Homo sapiens: one gene and its partners. The protein of the gene in region 3 interacts with the protein of the main gene of each other region in a pairwise test. Each region holds a gene or a part of one and is shown on either strand. Other genes may lie near its edges.

Region 1 (4,197 bases), on a different chromosome or scaffold from region 3:
GGGAGTAGTGACGAGATTTTTTGTGACACTCTAATGCTTTGGAAAATACCTGTTGCTGTTCCTGCTAAAACTCCAGGGCTTATTGTCTGCCTTTGTAATTGAAGGAGTGCTACATTTCAGCTAGAAGTTTTTGCCTTTTATCATTCATGTTCACAAATACCAAGTTGATTTACTCTCAGCCTATCCATTTGTAGGAATATATGGTGTCCTTTCTTTACTTCCTCAAATGATTATATTGATGACAAAAGAGACAAGGAAATAAAAACGGCACAGATAGGGGAACCCAAAGCCTAACAGTGTGTGTCCTTGGAGGTGAGGGTGAAGGAAGTGGCTGCAGGCCCTGGGAAGTACCATCTTGCATCCGTGTGCAGCACTGAGTGGATACCTCATGGTTCTGTCTTGTGTACACTGTTCAGGAGGACATGTAGAGTGGACATATCACATAGAAGAAGGTCAGTCTGGAAACTGTTAGGAGAAGCACTCAAGGGCTGAGAGGCATGGTCCTTGGTGGAAAGAGCCAGCAGGCCTGGTGCTGGCGGTGCCCTGCTCGTGACAGTGTGCAAAGTCTGGAGCCTGGCCTGTTCCCGCCCTTGGCAGATGGTAGCTCCTTGTTTTGGATTATTAGCCCCTGCCGGTTTAGTTACTGTTTCTGGAAGATTCACATAGAAGGCAGTGTGGTAATTCAGTCAACGTGTTGTCTGGCATGTGGTATAAAACTCCTGTTTAAAGCTCTGATTCTGAGGCCATGCCTCAGGGACTTGAGAAGGGGACAGAGCAGCTTATTTTATTTTATTATTTATTTTATTTAATTTTAATTTTATTTTATTTTGAGATAGGGTCTCACTTTTTCACCCAGGCTGGAGTGCAGTGGCACGATCTCGGCCCACTGCAGCCGGGAGCTTCTGGGCTCAAGTAATCTTCCCGCCACAGCCCCCAAAGTAGCTGGGATTACAGGCACGTGTCATCACACCCAGCTAATTGTACTGTTTGCCGTCTGCGATTGACGCTGGAATGATTGGCTGTTTTAGTCGGGTTCTCAGGGTGGCAGGGAGCAGGCTGACTTCAAGTTGGGTGGGTGGTGAGATAGGTGGTTCAGGATCATGCAGGGATAAAGAAAACAGGAGTCTATGGGATTCTTGGGACCACTGTATTGTTGCTGGGCCTCTGGGCAGATGGAACCATGGTTTGTGCTCTGGCAGGATCCAGTTCTGCACCAGGGCTCTTGGCCTTCCGCTTCAATTAGGTGGTTGCCCTCCACTGTCTGTTCCATCTGTACGCTCCCCTCACAGTGGGGGCTCACCCAGCCTTACCTGCCCTGTACTCTCCCTTTTCCAGCACCCACCTCAGAGAGAGTGCCTGTGCTCTTTCCCCTCACACCACCTACCAGGCGCTGACCTTCGGGCTGGGGGCTGGCCTTGGGTGTTGCAGGGCTACCTGGCCCAGGGAGTGGTGCTTGGGGAGGAATGAGCTTCTGACACCTGCACAAGGAAGGCCCCCTTTGAGCAGGGCCTGCCAGTGGGGTTGGGTCACTCAAAGGGGCTGTGGATTGGTAGGTACTATGATCACAGTTTCCAGAACATAATGCCTGAGTGAGCGCATGTGTTTTGTTACATGTTCTCTCAGACATTTTATGAAGGTTTGTACATTTTTTTGCATTAAAAATGTTAGGAATTTAACTTGACAAGAAAAAGGAGCATAAGGCCGGGTGCAGTGGTTCACGCCTGTAATCCCAGCACTTTGGGAGGCCAAGGTGGGTGGATCACCTGAGGTCGGGAATTCGAGTCCAGCCTGAACAACATGGAGAAACCCTGTCTCTACTAAAAATACAAAAAATTAGCCGGGTGTGGTGGTGCATGCCTGTAATCCCAGCTACTTGGGAGGCTGAGGCAGGAGAATCACTTGAACCCAGGAGGTGGAGGTTATGGTGAGCTGAGATCGCGCCATTGCACTCCAGCCTGGGCAACAAGAGCGAAACTCCATCTCAAAAAAAAAAAAAAAAGTTTAATAAACATTAAATTGCTAAACTTTACGTTCTTCTAAATTTAGTTACGTATTTGAGCATACTTTTTTTTCCCCCACGAAACAGGGGCTTGCTCTGTTGCCCAGGCTGGAGTGCAGTGGTGCAATCTTGGCTCCCTGCAACCTCTGCCTCCCGGGTTCAGGCAATTCTCCTGCCTCAGCCTACTGAGTAGCTGGGATTACAGGTGCCCACCACCACGCCTGGCTAATTTTTGTATTTTTAGTAGAGATGGAGTTTTACCATGTTGGCCAGGCTGGTCTCGAACTCCTGACCTCAGATGAGCTGCCCACTGTTGCCTTTCAAAGTTCCAGGATTACAGGCATGAACCACTGTGGCTGGCCTTTTTTTTCCAATTTTTTGTTATGGTAAAATACACGTAACAAAATTTACCATCTTAACCATTTTCAGTGTGCAGTTCAGTGGTGGTAAGTTCATTCATACTTTTGTACAGCCATCACCACCATCTGTCTCCAGAACCCTTCATCTTGTAAAACTGAAACTCTATACCCATTAAACACTGCCTCCCCATCTCCCCTCCCTGAAGCCCCTGGCAACCACCATTCTACTTCCTGTCTCTGAATTTCGCTACTATAGGGACTTCATACCAGTGGAATTAGGTAGTATTTGTCTTTTTGTGACCAGCTTAGCTCATTTACCATAATGTCCTTAAGGTTCATCTATGTTGTAGTGTGTGTCAGAATTTCCTTCCTTTTTAAGGCTGAATACTCCATTGTGTGGATATACTGAATTTTGTTTATCCATCCCTCAACAGACACTTGAGTTCCTTCTACCTTTTGACTATTTTGAATAATAAAACTGTGAACCTGAGTGTGTAAATACTTCTCCGAGATCCTACTTTCAATTTTTTTGGATATAGATCTAGAAGTGGGATTGCTGGATCATACTGGAATTCTGTTTTTAATTTTTTAGGGAACCTCCATCCGATTTTTCGCAGCAACTGTACTGTTTTATATTCCTTTTAATTTAATTTATTTTTTATTTTTCCAAGGACTCAATAAGGAGAGAGTATCAGTTTACATTCCTACCAACAGTACAGAGGTTCCAGTTTCTCCGTATCTTACCCAACACTTATTTTCTTATGTGTTGTTGCTTTTTTTAATAGCAGCCATCCTAATGGATTTGAGGTGGCATCTTACTGTCATTTTGATTTGTATTTCCCTAATAATTAGTGATGTGGAGCATCTTTTCACATGTTCATCGGCCATTTACATGTCTTTGGAGAAATATCTCTTCAAGTCCTTTGCCCCTTTTTGAATTGGGTTTCTTACATGCATACGTGTGTGCGTGTGTGTGCGTGTGTGTGTGTGTGTGTGTGTGTGTTTTAAAGAGACAGGGTCTCATGATGTTGTCCAGGCTGGTCTCCAACTCCTGGGCTCAAGTAATCCAGTAATACTCCTGCCTCAGCCTCCCAAGGAGCTGGGACTTAAAGACATGGGCCCCTGTGCCTGGCTATGTTCATACGTTTTTACATATTTTTTAAGCTATATTGTGTTATGCTTTTAGTTGGCATTTTAGTGATTTTTAAAACATTTATATAATCCACACATTTCTCGTTTTAAAAATTTAAGGTCTCATACACTTTTGTGAGTCCAGTTTTTTTCTTTTTCTTTTTTTTTGAGACAGAGTTTTGCTCTTGTTGCTCAGGCTGGAGTGCGATGGCATGATCTTGGCTCACCACAACCTCCACCTCCTGGGTTCAAGCAATTCTCCTGCCTCAGCCTCCCAAGTAGCTGGGATTACAGGCATGTGCCACCCCGCCTGGCTAATTTTGTATTTTCAGTAGAGACAGGGTCTCTCCATGTTGTTCAGGCTGGTCTCGAACTCCCGACCTTAGGTGATCTGTCTGCCTTGGCCTCCCAAAGTGCTGGGATTATAGGCGTGAGCCACCATGCCCGGCCAGTTCCAGTTTTTTGTATTATTTTACGGCCATGCTCTATGTTGTGGAGCCTTTTGAGTATTTAGGTTTTGATACTTTCTGTGTTTTGCCATCCGAAAGCTGGAGTCCCTCTGACCCACCAAGCTTAGTGCTGACAGGGAGAGTAGAGAGGGGTGGCTGCTGTGCAGGGAGGGAGTGCAGGTGCCAGTTCCACAGTGCTGTGTGCCCAGTGTAGGCAGTGCCTGAGAGAGGCTGTCCATGGGAAAGGGGTCCTTGCCTC
Region 2 (4,197 bases), on a different chromosome or scaffold from region 3:
GAGTAAACTGAGGCCAGAGAGGATATTTTTGGTTTTTTTTGAGACAGTCTCACTCTGTCACCCAGCCTGGAGTGCAGTGGCTTGATCTTGGCTCACTGCAAGCTCCACCTCCCATGTTCACACCATTTTCCTGCCTCAGCCTCCCAAGTAGCTGGGACTACAGGCACCCACCACCACACCCAGCTAATTTTTTTGTATCTTTAGTAGAGATGGGGTTTCACCCAGTTAGCCAGGATGGTCTTGATCTCCTGACCTTGTGATCTGCCTGCTTCGGCCTCCTAAAGTGCTGGGATTACAGGCGTGAGCCACCGTGCCCGGCCAGAGAGGATATTTCTTATATGAGGGGCAGGGCTGGGATTCCAGCCCAGTGTTCTGATGGCTCACCCACTGACCATGCCACTAATCCGTGTCCTTTTTCAATCTATACTTTGCAGGGTTGTAGAGGTTCCTTTGAGGTGCCTCAGTAGCTGCCATGGTGATGTGGGGTGCTGAGGGCAAAGAGCTCTGTTCTCATTAATCAGAGAAGCTTGTGTTTTTATATACACCATGTTTCTGCAGGAAATTTAATTTGAACAGTGTTTCCATCTGGAAAAAAAAAAGTCTACAAAATACTTGACAATCACTGCACTAGATCATGCTGCTTTTAGCATTCTTAGCATTTCACGTGCTGAGCTCTCAATACTCTACCATGAGGAGGGATGGAGTGGGTATGAAAAGATAAAGAACTGAAGTCACACGGCTTGTCAGTGGCAGAGATAGAGCTTGAACCGAGGTTGAAGAGCTCCCGCCTATTCCTTTCCTCTTCTCACTGGATAAAGCTGCTCCAAGAGAGGTGCTGCCTCAGTGTGCCTGTTCAGACTGTAATCCTCCCTTCCTTCCTGCCTCCTCCCTCCTCTCTCCAGCCCATCATCTTCGTTTCGGACAGAGCAAACAGCAACAAGGAGCTGGGTGTGGACCAGGAGTCAGAGGAGGGCAAAGGCAAAACAAGCCCTGATAAGCAAAAGCAGTCCCCACAGGTGTCTGGGCATGTGGCATGGGTGGGGTGGCCAGCACGCTACAGGGGCTTCCTATGCGCTTGGGATACACAGGGGCTGGAGGCTTCCCAGGAGTTTGTCTTGAACATCTGGAGGTTTGAATTTGTCCCACTGACCTTTTCTTTCAGCAAGTTCCCCTGAAATTTGGGCTGCTGCTTGGGTGAATATCCCAGGATGGGGGTTCCATTCTAGGAGTGGACTGGCAGGCTGAGCCTCCCATGGAGCTGATCCAGCCAGGATACAGAGAAGGGGAGGCAAAGGCTGAGACAGAACCAGCTTGAGAGCGGAGGCGCAACTCTTGTCTCCTGGTGGCCTTGAGCATTTCACAATAGGGGGATAAAGGATAGGAGCAGAAAAGTGGGGCTGACTTCAGAAATGGGGTCCTCTAGAGCTCACGGGAGGGTGTTAGATTGGAGTGGGAGCTTAGTGGAGGTGAGCCTTAGAGGCAAAAGTCTCCAGACCAATCCAGGGCCCCTCTTCTATCCGGGGGCCCCTCTTCTATCCAGGGCCCCTCTTCTGTCTGGGAGCCCCTCTTCTATCTGGGGCCTCATGCAGTGGGGCCTAGGGGAGGTTCTCTGAGGACTTGGCCTTGATGACAGGGTGGCTGGAGGAATCAGAACGGTCAGACCTTCTTTGACCTGCGGGCACCTTTAGTTGGAATGGTCAGGCCTGGGATGGTGGAGGGGGCTCTTGCAGGTGGGGACTGGGGTGGCGGGGAGGAGGCTGTATGGCCGCCATATCTCCTTTGGCTGGGGGCGTCAGGGCTGGAGAGGTGTGAAGAGTCCCTGAGGCCTCGATGCATCTCACTCCAGCTCACCAGGTCTGCATTTGCCCGTCCCCAGCTCCTGCTGCCACCTCCGGCCGTTTTAGGCACTTGGCTCCCTTGGCCCAGAGGAGCTTGCCTCACAGGCCTGTGCACCTCTGACCCCTGTGAACCAGTTTTCCTTTGTGCCTCCACAGCCACAGCCTGGCAGCTCTGATCAGGAAAGTGAGGAACAGCAACAATTCCGGAACATTTTCAAGCAGATAGCAGGAGATGTGAGTACCTCCAAGCCCAGGACGCCCACAGGTGCTTCCTTCTCTCCTGGATTAACTGCTCAGATTACCAATTATTTCATTATTGTTTGGTAGAGGTCACTTTGGACTTTGGTGGAGCCAGGGGATGTGTGCGTAGCACACAAATCCACAAGCCCTTGAGTTTTGGACTGCCACGTCTGCTGGGGGGCTCAGAGGCCTTTTTGCTCTGAGCTGCCCACGGTGGTCCTGATAGCTGAGGTGCAGTATCTGGCCCCCTGTCTTCCTCAGAAAAGCCCCAGCTTCCCATGACATAATAGCACCGACAGGGATTTTACAAACACAGCCAGGTGGAATTTGTTTTGCAAAGTGTCCGCGCCAGGAGCTGCTGTACTCCTGAACCATGACCCTCCTCTCCCTTCCTCCTCAGGACATGGAGATCTGTGCAGATGAGCTCAAGAAGGTCCTTAACACAGTCGTGAACAAACGTGAGTTGCTCAAACCAAATGGGGGTGGGGTGGGTGGGGAGTCCCGTTGTCTCAAAGCAGCTCCTCACTCTTCTCCATCCCCCCAGACAAGGACCTGAAGACACACGGGTTCACACTGGAGTCCTGCCGTAGCATGATTGCGCTCATGGATGTATCCTTCCTGCCGCCCCTTCCCGACCCTCTGTCATCAGCCCACGGGGGCCAAGGCAACATACAGGGTGCCCAGTCAGGCAAAGGGCCCTAATTTGTGCCCAGGGAAACTTAAGGAGACCCTGATTCAGAACATCTTGGATACTCGTCTGAAAGGGGTTGTTAGAGGCGGAAGGGGAGGATGTTGGGTTGTAACTGCCCTAACCCCTGTGCTTCTCTCAGGCCTGGGATCCTGCCCAAGCAAAAGTGGTCCTTAGGAGAGCGGCTCCTGGGTTACAGAGTAGGCGCAATCTCTGACTGGTGGTGGAGTGGAGGGGAGGGTTAAATAGTACAACAGGGCAGTGGGTAGGACAGCCCGGAGTCTCCTAGACCCTCCCTCCAAATCCAGGGGGATTTTGCTGTGTGCTGTGTAGCCCTGACCTCCCTCCTCCAGACAGATGGCTCTGGAAAGCTCAACCTGCAGGAGTTCCACCACCTCTGGAACAAGATTAAGGCCTGGCAGGTGGGAAGAGAAAATGAAGCGTGGGAGTCAAGAATGGGGTTGATTTGGAGATTCAGTGTGTGACCTCCATCCTCAAATTTTCTATTGCCAGAAAATTTTCAAACACTATGACACAGACCAGTCCGGCACCATCAACAGCTACGAGATGCGAAATGCAGTCAACGACGCAGGTGCTGAGAAGGAAGGGGTGGCAGGGATGTGGACCCGAGACGGTGGGAGCAGGAATGGGAGGGGACTAGGCTACTAGGGCCCCACTAGAGAAAGGAGAGGGAAAGGGCTTCTCACTTTCCCTTCCCAGGTCACAGAGTGGCCGAGAGGCAGGGAAAATAGAAGGCAGGCCCAAGGCCTCCAGCTCCACGTCCACCTCTAACATGGTCCCCTCCACAGGATTCCACCTCAACAACCAGCTCTATGACATCATTACCATGCGGTACGCAGACAAACACATGAACATCGACTTTGACAGTTTCATCTGCTGCTTCGTTAGGCTGGAGGGCATGTTCAGTAAGTGGGAGAGGGGGGCTGCCCTCTGCTCTCTTGCAGGGGCAGTTGTGGCAACAGGCATCTCACCTGATAATCTCCAGTCTGCTCCATCCAGGCTGAACAAGGGCCAATGACCTCTTTAGGCCCAGAATGGGATGGCAAAGGGAGGGTTACTGGTGATTCTCTGCCTGCACATCTTTGTGCTGATGAGGGACAGCACTGGGCACATGGTCCTCTGAGGGGAAGTTACAGTAGTAGAGGCGGAGTGCGCCTGTAACTGGCCTCTGGCCTGTGCATTCTTTCACAGGAGCTTTTCATGCATTTGACAAGGATGGAGATGGTATCATCAAGCTCAACGTTCTGGAGGTAAAGCATAGGCACAGCACATTCCCCCTACACATTAAAACTCAAGGTGGAGGGGTCAACGGGGCGGACTGGACCCAGGGTGTGCTCCTCATTTCCACACAGTGGTGGAGGGAAGGGATAGGAACAGAACATGGAGGGAGGCTCAGCAGGCTCCCAGGAC
Region 3 (4,197 bases):
TTTACAGTTGCAGAAGTGGAGTATTGTCGGGGCTCTGCATTCTAAATGGAGGAACAGCGTAAGTACAAGTGAGGAAGAGGTAGAAGACAATTTCAGAGAAGAGCGCTACAGAGTCTAAGATGGGGGCCCAATAGCAAATGAAGGAGCGGCCAAAGCCAGCCATCTCGGAAGGGATGAGAGACCAGTCCACGGACACAGCCTTTCCACACTTCTGTATCCTGTAGCAGCTGCAAGTGATCATGCCCAGGCGCCTTTCATCATGTGTCATCAGGAAGGCCTGACTACAGATAACATTTATTGAGTGAGCACTAACTACATGCCAGGAATATTCCCTAAGCATTTCGCATGAGTTAACTAATTTAATCTTCTCAACAAGCTCACGAGATAGGTTCTATTATTATCCCTGTTTTATAGATGAGGAAAGTGAAGCACAGTAGGTTGACATTTTTTGTGACCTCTCTCTATTCAATGACCTGTTTTCTCTTTATCATGACTCAGAGTTCCCAAGATCTATTTGCCGAACAGTGAATTATTGTTAAAACAGGAATTTACCTGTAGGGGTAGGGTGCAGGTACACACTTGGAAAGAATGTCAGATAGGGATTAGAGAGCTAAGGATTTTGAACATCTTTTTTTTTTTTTTCTTCTGTGGATATGAAGAATTTGCTGAGATTTTAAAGCAGGGGGTGGCATACTGAGCTGGTTAGTAAAGCCAGTCTGGGAGGATGCGGCACAGTGGGTTAAGAGTGGGGGAAAATGAGGTACCTGTGATACCAGCTGACCAGTTAGGAAGTTAATGGCAGTGACTAGGAGGGAAGTGGTGAAAAGCTGGGTGAGGTGGCGATCGTGGTAACAGAGAGAGCACAGATACAAGAGTTATTATGAAGATGCTGGTGACTAGAGTGGGCTTGAGTGACTGCTGAGTCCCGACAAGATCAGGAAGGCAATCCTGATGAGAGAAGGTGGTAAATTTAACTTTAGCTTTTTTGAGTTTGTGGAATAGTGAGTCATTCCAGCCTGGGATGTGTCATTGTATTGGGTATCCTGACTTTGGTTTTTAAACTTTATTTGATATACATCCCTCTTTTTGACATGGAAGGCAATATTGATGTCTGTATTTTAATTTCACATTAATCCTTTACCTGGTAAAAATGTATTTACTTATTCTATTAATTAGTATTATTTTATTATGATAATATATAATTAATATTGTTATTTGCTATAGGTTATCAGACCAGGATGAAGAGGGAAAGATCAAGCAGGAGTATATCATATCTGACCCCTCCTTTTCCATGGTGACAGTCCAAAGGGAAGATAGTGGGATAACCTGGGAAACCAATTCAAGTAGATCTTCTACTCCTTGGGCTTCAGAAGAAAGTCAGACTTCTGGTGTGTGTAGTCGGGAAGGGTCAACTGTGAATTCTCCTCCTGGAAATGTTTCCTTTATTGTGGATGAAGTGAAAAAGGTTCGGAAAAGGACTCATAAGTCAAAGCATGGTTCACCATCATTACGCCGGAAAGGCAACAGAAAAAGAAATTCTTTTGAATCCCAAGATGTTCCAACAAACAAAAAAGGCAGTCCTTTAACTTCAGCAAGCCAGGTACTAACCACGGAGAAAGAGAAGTCATATACTGGCATTTATGATAAAGCAAGAAAAAAGAAGACCACTTCAAATACACCTCCGATTACTGGGGCAATATACAAAGAACACAAGCCATTAGTGTTAAGACCAGTCTACATAGGAACAGTACAATATAAAATTAAGATGTTTAATTCGGTTAAAGAAGAATTAATTCCTCTACAATTTTATGGAACATTGCCAAAGGGTTATGTAATTAAAGAAATACATTATAGGAAAGGGAAAGATGCATCCATTAGTCTAGAGCCAGATTTGGACAATAGTGGTTCTAATACAGTGTCCAAAACACGCAAATTAGTAGCCCAAAGCATAGAGGATAAAGTAAAAGAGGTTTTTCCACCCTGGAGAGGCGCACTCTCCAAAGGATCAGAGTCCCTAACCTTAATGTTCAGTCATGAAGATCAAAAGAAAATTTATGCTGATTCTCCCCTAAATGCCACATCTGCATTGGAGCACACAGTTCCCTCTTATTCAAGTAGTGGCAGAGCAGAACAAGGAATACAGCTCAGGCATTCACAGTCAGTGCCACAACAGCCAGAAGATGAAGCAAAACCACATGAAGTGGAACCTCCATCTGTGACACCCGACACACCTGCAACTATGTTCCTGAGAACAACAAAGGAAGAATGTGAGCTTGCTTCACCAGGAACTGCAGCTTCAGAGAATGACTCTTCAGTCTCACCATCATTTGCTAATGAGGTAAAGAAGGAAGATGTGTATTCTGCTCACCATTCCATTTCTCTGGAGGCAGCGTCACCAGGTCTGGCAGCATCTACCCAGGATGGTTTGGACCCAGACCAAGAACAGCCGGACCTGACTTCAATAGAAAGGGCAGAACCAGTCTCCGCAAAACTGACCCCTACCCATCCCAGTGTCAAAGGAGAGAAGGAGGAAAACATGCTTGAGCCATCCATTTCTCTTTCTGAACCTCTAATGTTAGAAGAACCAGAGAAAGAAGAAATAGAAACTTCCCTACCCATAGCTATTACCCCTGAACCTGAAGATTCTAATTTAGTAGAAGAAGAGATCGTAGAACTTGATTACCCAGAAAGCCCATTGGTTTCCGAGAAGCCCTTCCCACCACATATGTCCCCTGAAGTGGAGCACAAAGAAGAAGAGCTTATTCTACCATTATTGGCAGCATCATCTCCTGAACATGTTGCTTTGTCTGAGGAAGAAAGAGAGGAAATTGCATCTGTTTCTACTGGTTCTGCTTTTGTATCAGAGTATTCAGTACCACAGGATTTGAACCATGAATTACAGGAGCAAGAAGGTGAGCCAGTTCCCCCATCCAATGTAGAAGCTATAGCTGAACATGCAGTTTTGTCAGAAGAAGAGAATGAGGAATTTGAGGCTTATTCCCCAGCTGCAGCCCCTACATCTGAGAGCTCTCTCTCACCATCCACAACTGAGAAGACTTCAGAGAACCAGTCTCCACTGTTTTCAACAGTTACACCAGAATACATGGTCCTATCAGGAGACGAGGCCTCAGAAAGTGGGTGTTACACACCAGACTCCACATCTGCTTCTGAATATTCAGTTCCATCACTGGCAACAAAAGAGTCACTGAAGAAAACAATTGACCGTAAGTCCCCGTTAATATTGAAAGGTGTTTCTGAGTACATGATTCCATCAGAAGAGAAGGAAGACACTGGATCGTTTACTCCAGCTGTGGCCCCTGCTTCTGAGCCCTCTCTCTCACCATCCACAACCGAAAAGACTTCTGAATGCCAGTCACCACTGCCTTCTACTGCCACATCAGAACACGTGGTCCCATCAGAAGGAGAGGACCTAGGAAGTGAACGTTTCACACCGGATTCAAAGTTGATCTCCAAATATGCAGCCCCACTCAATGCAACACAGGAATCTCAAAAGAAAATAATCAATGAGGCATCCCAATTCAAACCAAAAGGTATTTCTGAGCACACAGTTCTGTCAGTAGACGGCAAGGAGGTCATTGGACCATCTTCCCCAGATTTGGTTGTTGCATCTGAACACTCTTTCCCACCACACACAACCGAGATGACTTCTGAATGCCAGGCCCCACCACTTTCAGCCACCCCATCTGAATATGTTGTTCTATCAGACGAAGAGGCAGTCGAGTTGGAACGATACACACCCTCTTCTACATCTGCTTCTGAATTTTCAGTACCACCATATGCAACACCGGAGGCACAGGAGGAAGAAATTGTCCATAGATCTCTAAATCTAAAAGGTGCATCCTCACCCATGAATTTATCAGAAGAAGATCAAGAAGACATTGGACCTTTTTCTCCAGATTCTGCATTTGTGTCAGAATTCTCATTTCCACCGTATGCAACCCAGGAAGCAGAGAAAAGAGAATTTGAGTGCGATTCTCCAATATGTTTAACATCACCATCTGAGCACACTATTTTGTCAGATGAAGACACTGAAGAAGCGGAACTGTTCTCTCCAGACTCAGCATCACAAGTTTCAATCCCTCCCTTTAGAATCTCAGAAACAGAGAAAAATGAACTTGAGCCTGATTCACTATTAACTGCAGTGTCTGCTTCAGGTTATTCCTGCTTTTCAGAAGC
Region 4 (4,197 bases), on a different chromosome or scaffold from region 3:
AAAATTTATTTATTTATTTTTAAATTTGAGACAGGGTTTCACTATGTTGCCCATGCTGGTCTTGAACTCCTGGGCTTGGGTGGCACTCCTGCATCAGCCTCCCAAAGTGCTGGGATTACGGGCATGAGCTACCTCACCCTGCTCAGTAGCCTTTACTCTTGCGGAGACGCAAACACCTGCCCAAGAAGCCACAGTCCAGGGTGCTCTGGCTGAGATAAAGGGAGGTTCTAGAAGCTATGAGAACCCAGGGGCTGGAGCCAGCACTTCCAGCTAAGGGTATCCAGGAAGGCTTCCTGGAAGAGGTGTCTTCTGGGTGCTTCCTGAAGGATGAGGAAGAGCTTAGTGTTGCATGCACAGGGACCAGCCTTGCAAAATCTCTGGGACAAGGCAGTCTTTTTTTTGTTGTTGTTGTTGTTTGGTTGGTTTCTTTTTTTCTCTTTTTTTTTTGAGATGGAGTTTTGCTCTTGTTGCCCAGGCTGGAGTGCAGTGGTGTTATCTTGGCTCACCACAACCTCCGCCTCCTGGGTTCAAGCGATTCTTCTGCCTCAGCCTCCTGAGTAGCTGGGATTACAGGCATGCACCACCAGGCCCGGCTAATTTTGTATTTTTAGTAGAGATGGGGTTTCACCATGTTGGCCAGGCTGGTCGCAAACTCCCAACCTCAGTTGATCTACCCGCCTCGGCCTCCCAAAGTGCTGGGATTACAGGTGTGAGCCACTGCGCCCCGTCCAGTCTGGTGCTTTTAATGAAGGACGGCATTTGGAGGGCGAGGAGGGCAGTGGAGCGAGTGAGGACTCTGTGTGTTGATGGGGAATCATGGGAGGATTCTGAGCAGGGGAATGGCAGAGGCAGGCCTGGGTTTGCTTGGGGACACGATGGGGTGCAAGGCCATCTGGTGGCTGCGTTCAGGTATTCACGACCACCGAGGGCAGGACCCGCATCGAGAAGCGGGTGGACTGCAGCAGCTTTGTGATTGAGAGTGCGCAGCGGGAAGACGAGGGCCGCTACACCATCAAGGTCACCAACCCCGTCGGCGAGGACGTGGCTTCCATCTTCCTGCAAGTTGTAGGTGAGCAGAGAAAGCCGAGGTGGCTGGGCCAAGGGGTGACTCCCTGAGGCCTCGAGGGGCCACCTGACTCTCCTGCCCCCTGCAGATGTCCCAGACCCCCCGGAGGCTGTGCGCATCACCTCGGTTGGAGAGGATTGGGCCATCCTTGTCTGGGAGCCACCAATGTACGATGGGGGGAAGCCAGTCACCGGTGAGTGCCTCTGTCCTCATGACCTCTGACCTTCCCTCTTTCTGCCTTCTGTTTTTTTTTTTTTTTTTTTTTTTGAGATGGAGTCTCACTCTATCGCCCAGGCTGGAGTGCAGTGGCTCAATCTCGGCTCACTGCAACCTCTGCCTCCTGGGTACAAGCAATTCTCCTGCCTCAGCCTCGCAAGTAACTGGGATTACAGGTGCCCACCACCACGCCCGGCTAATTTTTGTATTTTTAGTAGAGATGGGGTTTTACCATGTTGGCCAGGCTGGTTTTGAACTCCTGACCCCAAGTGATCTGCCCACTTCAGACTCCCAAAGTGCTGGGATTACAGGTGTCAGCCACGGCACCAGCCTCTGCCTTCTCCTTGACCTCCCAGAGCCCTTAGCATCCTCAGTGACCTACCTCTGACCCCTGATTTTCCATTTTCCCATCTCAATCCCTTTGGTCTTCCCGCTTCCTTTACTCGCTGGTGACCTGGGAATTCTCACTTTGACCAGTAGCCTGGGTTTTTCTATGGCTCCTGGCCTCCTGGTTCATGAGCTGTGACCCCCTCTTGATTCCTGACTCCAGGACTGGTGGCCTCTGAATGCTCTGTGGCCCCTGAGATCCACCTAAGATTCATGGCCTCGGACCGCCCTGGCCATGCGATCCTCTGGATGTGGCCCTCACTCCCCCAGCTGACTCATGCCCCATGCCCTCCCGTTCCCTCTTCTCCTCTCTGCTTGGAGCCTCCAGGGTACCTCGTAGAGCGGAAGAAGAAGGGCTCTCAGCGCTGGATGAAGCTGAACTTTGAGGTCTTCACAGAGACCACCTATGAGTCCACCAAGATGATCGAGGGCATCCTCTATGAGATGCGTGTCTTCGCCGTCAATGCTATAGGGGTCTCCCAGCCCAGCATGAACACCAAGCCTTTTATGCCTATTGGTAATGTCCTCCCTCACTTTTATGCCTATTGGTAATGATGGATCACTCTGATCCATCAACCCCGTCCACCTCTGGCCCATCTTTTGCCCGCCATCAATCTCTGACCCTACCCCCTGGCCTTCTGACCAATCATTCTACCTCTGACTCCTGCCCCTTCCTGCTGACCCCTGACCCCTCATTCCCCCCATATCCTCTTTTTCTGGATGCTTGCAGCACCCACGAGTGAACCCCTGCACCTGATAGTGGAGGATGTGACAGACACCACCACCACACTCAAGTGGAGGCCTCCGAACAGGATCGGGGCAGGTGGCATCGATGGGTACCTGGTGGAGTACTGCCTGGAAGGCTGTGAGTGACCCTGGCAGGGCTGGTGGGGGTGGTGGCTAGCACAGGTGGGTATCCAGTCCAGGGAGCTGAAAATAGGACCATGTGGGACAGAGATGGGTGCAGTGGCCTGCTTGTGTTTTGTGTCTGTACTGTTATAAGTCTCTGGGATGGGACCCCCCTGTGACTAGTGTGTTTTCTCTCCCTTCTTCCTTTCTACATCCATCCTCCATACAGCAGTGACTTTCTGTCATTCCATCTATCCTTCCATCCCCCCATTTATCTTTTATCTTTTACCTTTATGCCTTCTTTCTTTCTTCTACTCATTTATCCATCTAACCAATCTTTCCTTCATCCATCTTAACATCCACCCATCCATCCATCTGTCCATCCATCTGTCCACCCATCTGTACATCCATCCATCCATATTTCCATCCATCCATCCATCCATTCATCTTACCGTCCATCCATCCATCCATCCATCCATCCATCCATCCATCCATCATTTCCATCCATCCATCCACCCACCCACCCACTCATATTTCCATCTATCCATCCATCCATCCATCCATTTATCCATCCATCCACCCATCCATATTTCCATCTATTCATCCATCCATCCATCCATCCATCCATCCATCCCTCCATTTGTCCATCTGTCCACCTGTCCATCATCCATCCATCCATCCATCCATCTGTCCATCCATCCATCCGTCTGTCCATCCATCTGTCCATCCATCCATCTGTCCATCCATCTATCCATCCATCCATCCATCCATCCATCTGTCCATATTTCCTTCGTTTCTCTCTCTCTCTTTTTTTTTTTTTTTGAGACAGAGTCTTGCTCTGTTGCCCAGGCTAGAGTGCAGTGGCACGATTGGCTCACTGCAAGCTCCACCTTCCAGGTTCACGCCATTCTCCTGCCTCAGCCTCCCAAGTAGCTGGGACTACAGATGCCTGCAACCATGCCCAGCTAATTTTTTTTTTTTGTATTTTTAGTAGAGACAGGGTTTCACTGTGTTAGCCAGGATGGTCTTGATCTTCTGACCTCGTGATCCACCTGCCTCGGCCTCCCAAAGTGCTGGGATTACAGGCATGAGCCATCGCACCCGGCCCAGTATCATTTTTTCATCCATATATCTATCTCTTCACCACTATCTTTGCTTCCTTCCCTCTTTCTACCTATATGGCCATCCAACCATCTGTCCACCTAACCAGCCATTGTCTCTCTGCCTGTCCATCCATCATCTGTACCTCCATACATCCACTCTCCATCCTCCACCAAACAAACATTCACTGAGCACTGACTTGTGCCCGGCCCAGTGCCATGGCTATGGAGATGTCTCAGACGCAGCCATCTCTCTGGGAGAACAGACGTGATCACCTCGACACACTATCCCAGGTCTTAAAGTCAGACAGATGCGGGTTCCAACCTTGCCCCTCCACTGTCTAACTGTGTGTCCTTGGGCAAGTCTCTGAGCCTCAGTCTCTTCATCTAACCATGGCGAAGACAGTTCTCATCTTGACAGGGTACAGTGACGATGTACTCGAGAATGCATGGAAAGGAGGGATGGTTGAACCCTCATCAGCTTCCTCCCTCCTCCTCTCCTCCGTGCTCTTTACCCCATTCCTCCCTGGCCGGCTGCTCCCACCCTGACGTTTCAGAACCCAGCTTGTTAGAGTTCAC

Evidence for each region.
Region 1: the proteins of CMYA5 (region 3) and PKNOX1 interact in a two-hybrid assay, tested with the Homo sapiens proteins (one large-scale study listed by BioGRID and IntAct).
Region 2: the proteins of CMYA5 (region 3) and CAPN3 interact in a two-hybrid assay, tested with the Homo sapiens proteins (one large-scale study listed by BioGRID and IntAct).
Region 4: the proteins of CMYA5 (region 3) and MYBPC2 interact in a two-hybrid assay, tested with the Homo sapiens proteins (one large-scale study listed by BioGRID and IntAct).

What each region holds. Positions count from the first base shown.
Region 1 is NC_000021.9:42,980,749-42,984,945, forward strand, and holds part of PKNOX1 (homeobox protein PKNOX1), read left to right. Parts: intron 1-4,197. UniProt on the Homo sapiens protein: Activates transcription in the presence of PBX1A and HOXA1.
Region 2 is NC_000015.10:42,407,309-42,411,505, forward strand, and holds part of CAPN3 (calpain-3), read left to right. Parts: intron 1-902; coding exon 903-1,016; intron 1,017-1,994; coding exon 1,995-2,072; intron 2,073-2,478; coding exon 2,479-2,536; intron 2,537-2,622; coding exon 2,623-2,687; intron 2,688-3,119; coding exon 3,120-3,188; intron 3,189-3,279; coding exon 3,280-3,358; intron 3,359-3,575; coding exon 3,576-3,692; intron 3,693-3,978; coding exon 3,979-4,037; intron 4,038-4,197. UniProt on the Homo sapiens protein: Calcium-regulated non-lysosomal thiol-protease. Proteolytically cleaves CTBP1 at 'His-409'. Mediates, with UTP25, the proteasome-independent degradation of p53/TP53.
Region 3 is NC_000005.10:79,727,691-79,731,887, forward strand, and holds part of CMYA5 (cardiomyopathy-associated protein 5), read left to right. Parts: intron 1-1,224; coding exon 1,225-4,197. UniProt on the Homo sapiens protein: May serve as an anchoring protein that mediates the subcellular compartmentation of protein kinase A (PKA) via binding to PRKAR2A. May function as a repressor of calcineurin-mediated transcriptional activity.
Region 4 is NC_000019.10:50,453,111-50,457,307, forward strand, and holds part of MYBPC2 (myosin-binding protein C, fast-type), read left to right. Parts: intron 1-909; coding exon 910-1,069; intron 1,070-1,154; coding exon 1,155-1,259; intron 1,260-1,997; coding exon 1,998-2,186; intron 2,187-2,399; coding exon 2,400-2,534; intron 2,535-4,197. UniProt on the Homo sapiens protein: Thick filament-associated protein located in the crossbridge region of vertebrate striated muscle a bands. In vitro it binds MHC, F-actin and native thin filaments, and modifies the activity of actin-activated myosin ATPase.